Regions from separate parts of the Homo sapiens genome. Here region 1 is linked to region 2. A link means that fine-mapping ties the variant in region 2 to the expression of a gene that starts in the linked region. Tissue or cell type: whole blood. Region 2 holds a variant in brackets; the other region holds the start of a gene. All regions are shown on one strand. Distances are from middle to middle.

Evidence for each region.
Region 1: it holds the start of RFFL, and the variant in region 2 is fine-mapped to the expression of RFFL in whole blood (INTERVAL, PIP above 0.99).

Annotation. Positions count from the first base shown.
Region 1 is chr17:35,061,994-35,064,909 of GRCh38, forward strand. RFFL (ring finger and FYVE like domain containing E3 ubiquitin protein ligase) reads right to left here and starts at 1,714. Exons shown (of 7, transcript NM_001017368.2): 1 at 1,583-1,714. The region is part of intron 5 of RAD51L3-RFFL (RAD51L3-RFFL readthrough); the gene reads right to left. RefSeq lists enhancers at 1,265-2,464, 1,551-2,346, 1,796-1,895 and a silencer at 1,486-1,555.
Region 2 is chr17:35,013,461-35,016,376 of GRCh38, forward strand. RFFL (ring finger and FYVE like domain containing E3 ubiquitin protein ligase) reads right to left here. Exons shown (of 7, transcript NM_001017368.2): 5 at 2,910-2,916; 6 at 1,280-1,303. RAD51L3-RFFL (RAD51L3-RFFL readthrough) reads right to left here. Exons shown (of 7, transcript NR_037714.1): 6 at 2,910-2,916. Among named protein-coding and RNA genes, the nearest start is that of LIG3, 34 kb to the left of the region's middle. The variant T/C (reference allele first, on the strand shown) is at 1,355.

The DNA.
Region 1 (2,916 bases), 49 kb after region 2:
CAGTTTTGACCTCTGGTAAATTAAGGCAATGACAGTGGGAATGAAGAAAAGCCACACATCAAACAGTACTCCAACAAAATCAACAGGGTTTAGCACATTTAAAGATGTGAGCATAAAAAGAATGAACAAGGCCGGGCGCGGTGGCTCACACCTGTAAACCCAGCACTTTGGGAGGCCAAGGCAGGTGGACCATGAGGTCAAGAGATCGAGACCATCCTCGCCAACATGGTGAAACACTGTCTCTACTAAAAATACAAAAATTAGCTGGGCGTGGTGGCACGTACCTGTAGTCCCAGCAACTCAGGAGGCTAAGGCAGGAGAATCGCTTGAACCAGGAAGGCAGAGGTTGCAGTGAGCTAAGATCACACCACTGCACTGCAGCCTGGGTGACAGAGCAAGATTCCTCTCAGAAGAAAAAAAAAAGAGTTGATGAGAGGATCAGAGTTGAGAAAGTACAGTACAGGCTCTTGCTCATTCTACCCTTACTGAGAACCTACTATGTGCAACGTACCATGGATACAATTCTAGCAAAGCAGACCCTGATTCTCAATACATACTATGATTGGAGTAAATACCAGGTTCTCCTGAGTACTCAACCCTGGTAAGTAAGAAGAGGCTTCATGGAAGAGGTGACTTCTAGGCTGAAACCAGTTGGCCAGATTAAGCTTGGGGAAGGTGTGTAAAAGAACGCTTACATATGCTAAGGTCTGAGGTGAAAGAGAACGTGGGCAATTTGTTGGAATTATAAGGAGCAGAAACGTAATTTGGAGGGTGACGACTACCTAGAGATATCATAGTCTGATTAGGTGAAGGACTCAAAAGTTTGGCGATGAAAAGCAGGAGGGAGATAGAGTAGTAGCCTAGTAGAATTAGAGATGAGGGAGGTTCTTCCTATTAATTCAGAAAGGAATATGGGAACAAACTCACTGATAAGACAGTGTTCTCCACAACTCAATATTTAGTTATTAGGAAGGCAACCAAATGCCTTCACTTCTTTTCCTTTAACAATGGCTTAGTTTGACTAAAGTGTTTCTCACAAGATACACACAAAAAAACAAAATACAAGAGCAAATGACGGATAAAGCTGTAAACCTAACGTTTTACTTTTCTAAGATTTATATAATCAGTGATTTAATTGGACCTAACTCCACATCCAGAACTCAAATGAAAGAAAACTTCTGGCCGGGGGCCGTGGCTCATGCCTATAATTCCAGCACTTTGGGAGGCTGAGGAGGGTGGATCACCTGAGCTTGGGAGTTCGAAACCAGACTGACCAACACAGCAAAACCCTGTCTCTACTAAAAATACAAAATTAGCCGGGCATGGTGGCGCACATCTATAATCCCAGCTACTTGGGAGGCTGAGGCAGGAGAATCACTTGAACCCGGGAGGTGAAGGTTGCAGTGAGCCGAGATCACACCATTGCACTCCAGCTTGGGCAACAAGAGTGAAACTCCGTCTCAAAAAAAAAAAAAAAAAAAAAAAAAAAAAAAACCTGACTCACTTCTGAAGACAGGATTTTCCCAGTTTCTAATGCAGCTTCATCTAGCTAATGAAACTTAAGAAAACAGTTTGAGGTTACCTGATTTTGCCAGTTTCAAAACATTGCCACGACAGAAAGCAAGCTGTCTCTAGTTCCTGTGGCTGAGGTCGCTGGAGCCATGTTCAGATGAGATCATCTCAGGAACCAAGAGCAGCGGCTTTCATGTGAAGTGAATGGTGCCGCCTGGGGATGTATCTTTGGTAAGCAAGATTGCAACACAGCAGGGAGTTTACCCAGGGCAGTGCTGACTCACGCTGGGCAAAATTTGTACTTCCCAAACAACTCAGCCTGAACCAACCGCAGTCAACTGCAACCTAGGAAAGAAGAGGCAGCTCACTGATTGTTTTAAATCAAGTGCTGATTACTGGGGGCAGGTAAACCTCATTCCCCCACTACTGGTAACTTGGCCACCTCCAGAGCCCTTACCCAAAAAGTTCCAGTGGCCAGTTTCTAAAATTTCATCTGAGAACAGGCTGGGGCTGGGGCCAGCAAGATTACTGAACATAGCAGGTTCACAGCTCTGAAGATTTCCCCAGGAGGCTGATAAATAAGTCACTTTGCATTTACAAATTAGAACATCTGGGTCAGTGGACTCAGGGAACTTGCCCAGTCATCATTAGCCAGTCAAATCATTAGGGTGAATTTTTGTCAGTTCTAACCAGGCTCATTGTTCTTTTTTCCCACTAGGCCTCCTCTGACCTCTCTATTTCTTCAGACAACTCAAGTTCTCTCATTAAGATAGATGCACTGGAATTTTTTTTTTTTAATCAGCTGCCACATTCTCTATGCTAAAGCCAAATCATTTACCATCACACCTACTGGATGCATAGGGAATACAGAAGACTATGAAAATCACCTTAACACTTGCTCTGAAAAGAGACATCCCTAAATTTATGTCAATTCTCATTTATTAGCCTGCTTATTTAAAAAATCAATCTAGAATGACTGGCTCATCAACAGCTATTAATTACTGAATTTGCCCTGACAGGCTAGAATTGACATTGGTGTTATACAAAAAAAAAAAAAAAAGATCAAGTCCTTGCTTTTTGTGTGCTTTAATTTGACAAGAGAGAAACTAAAGTTCCTATTAGATCCTTCTGTTTCCTGCTTAAAATGTATGACAGTTCCCCAAGGCCATCAGCTATTTCTTAGCAGGGCATTTGAGGCCTCTGCACCCAGCTTCGTTCATCCTTTAAGGTAGGTCTCACATGGCATGAACTCTGGATGTAGCTGCCAACTCAGCTTGTCATTCAATAATGTTAGGTTAATTAAAATGTACGTGCAGACAGAATTTGAGTTTAAAAACTATACTACTTAATTTTCTATTCAAGGGGCTAGTTTTAAAAAGTTATTTATCCAACTCACTTAATTCT
Region 2 (2,916 bases):
ACCCATAAAAAGGAACTGATCTCACAGAAGTCACCTCTACCATCTGGGGGTTGGCCAACCCATAGAGGAATTCTCCCTTATTGCATCTATACTTTCTCTTTTCTGGACTATTAAAAAGTCAAGAAATACTTCCCCCTAGGAGGTAGGCTGGGTGTGAAAGGGAGTGAAACCCATTTGCCTCTTTTGAGGTGCTGTTGGTCCTAACAGAGGTTTGGAGACTATACAAATACCTAAGATGAATGGGAATAATTTATAATTTTCAGTTACTCATTCTCTCAGAAGTAACAACAAACACATTAACTCAGTTGTCAGCATTCTCCCAGGGAATCAGAAAAAGAAAGGAAGCACCAAGTAGATCAGCCTGATCTTGGTACCGGTGATGCTGGGGGGTTGGAGGGTGGAGGTGGGTCTAGAACTCCAAATGGTTTTGGGGAATTGAGAAAAGCTCAACTGTTTTTTATGTCTGATTAGAAGTAATCAGACATAAAATTGCCCATTCTGAGCAAAAGGCCATTTTACTAAATAAATTTGGGAAATCTTCTGAAATAAGTTTTAAAATGCTGCAGGCTAGTCCAACACTACTCTTAGAACGTTCTCTCTTGGAAGGGAGTTCACAACCATATACCCTTGAGGCTTTTGAAAACACATAGCATATTTTAGAATGTCCCCACAGATGGTCAGGAGTTCTGCAGTGTGTTCTGGGAGTACCTGAGGGCCCAGTGGTGGTCTTTAAGTGAGTGGCAGCTGAGCTGAGATATATAGCTTGTGCCCAGAGAGTAGCACATGTGTTAGCTCCAGAGTAGCTCTAACCATTACCAGCCCTGTACAAACAGGGCTGTCTCAGGTCACCACCCTTTCTTTTTGGTTAGTACCAGAAGCTGCTAAACACCCTGATTCCCCAGAAGGTGTACACAGAGACCCTCCCTACCCAGACCAGAACTGAAAACACCAAGATTTTAAAAAATGAGCTGAGTGTGATACATGCCACCCCTCCTCTGTTTCAGTGTTTTACAAATGTTGGCTTATGAGCTCAGGTAGCCCAGGGACATGCACATCAGTCAGTCCGCCCCTACGTATGCTCCACTCTGCTTCCTGCACAGCGAGCAGAGAGAATTTCTAAAGATGGTGAGAGGCCCCCTGGGTCTCAGTGAGTTTCCCACACACCCTCTCTCTGGGGGCTCAAATGCTCAGAATTCTTAGATTACTAAAGGGATTGGGGTTGAAGGAGGGGAAGGACAAAAGGGCCTAAGCCCATTCCCAAACAGAAACAACTACATACCGTTTTGGTCTTCGGCACCACTGACTGAAAAGGAAAGAGAAGGATGTCTGAATAGGTAAGGCATGATGGTACAAA[T/C]ACAGTCTCTTACTGCCCTGACATCATTTCTGAACTCTTACCACTCCCTGCTGGGAACCAGGCTTGCCAAGAGCCTAGATGGACATCTGCCCTCTACTCGCTCTACATGCTCAGAACTCACACAAAGCTCCTACTCGTGCATCTGGTCTACTTTTATTTTTTATTTTTTTGAGATGGAGCCTCACTCTCTTGCCCAGGCTGGAGTGCAGTGGCATGATCTTGGCTCACTGCAACCTCTTTCTCATGGGTTCAAGCGATTCTCCTGCCTCGGCCTCCTGAGTACCTGGGGACTACAGGCACATGCCACCACTCCCGGCTAATTTTTTGTTTTTGGTGGAGATGGTGTTTCACCATGTTGCCTATGCTGGTCTTGAACTCCTGATCTCAAGTGATCCACCTGCCTCAGCCTCCCAGAGTGCTGGGATTACAGGCATAAGCCAACACACCCAGCCTGGTCTACTCTTAGGAAAAGGTATTCCACCAGTTTGCACAAACTGCCAAGTAGAAGGATACTGTATATGTGCAATATCCTTTTCTATTTTGAAGTCAGCATTAAAGTCAAGAAAGAATGAACTATCTAGCTGTTTCAGTCAGTCAGAGAATCTGGATAAAGTTCCCACGTGGAGTCATCTGTTCTGTTCCCCAGGTCCTGACGACTGGAGAGAAGACTCTTGAAACAATCCCAAAGGGAAAACAGACTCCATGTCAGTAGGCCTCAGTCTGTAATCGGGTGAAGAGTCAGTCAGATGACCCCTAACACTGATGAATTTGAGCTACTGGTAGAAGAGAGCCTGAAACCTGACTTCAACCACTCTTACCAAGCAAGGAATCAGTATGTTGCTCTGTAGGAACCAAATCAACTGGGGATGGGAGGAAAGGAGAAGATTCTGTGGTGAAATAATTTCAGGAAATGCTAAGTTCAAAACAGCCAAAACACATTTCTCTTCTGCAGGACTTCTCTGCCTTTAATATAAAAATCTACCATAAATCAGTAATGAAGATATGAGGTATTTTTCCCTAAACTCATTTAACCACAGACCCAGATATTTTCCTGGGCATCTCCTGAATGATACAGTGTAAAATGCTCTGGGAAATGAACAAAAGGAAGAGCCCAAGTGCAGATGGAACAGCTATCTTCTCCTGCCATGTATGTAGATTCACTTTCTACCTCCCAAATCTTCAGAACAAGCATTCTTATTCTAAGGTAAGAAAACTTACAAGGTGGTGGTGAGTAGGGAGGGGATAGCATATGGTGAGAAAGGCTATGGACTTAGACCATAAAATTTTCAGTTAAATTTTACCTTTCAGATAAAGGGGTGATGCTAATAATGTCTATTTCATAGGTTGCTCTAAGGAATAAATACATACATGCAATGCCTAATCTAGTTTTGACACTCAACCACAAATGACAGCTATTATTAGACGGTGCAAATATGTAAGGTGTCTCCTTCCATGGCTTAAGTGTGGAAATTGAGTCAGGTCAATACCATCATGCTTTGGAGTGACAGCAAACACTCCTGAGCTCTGTAAAGCTACCATGCAGATAGCCCCTCACCCAGGTG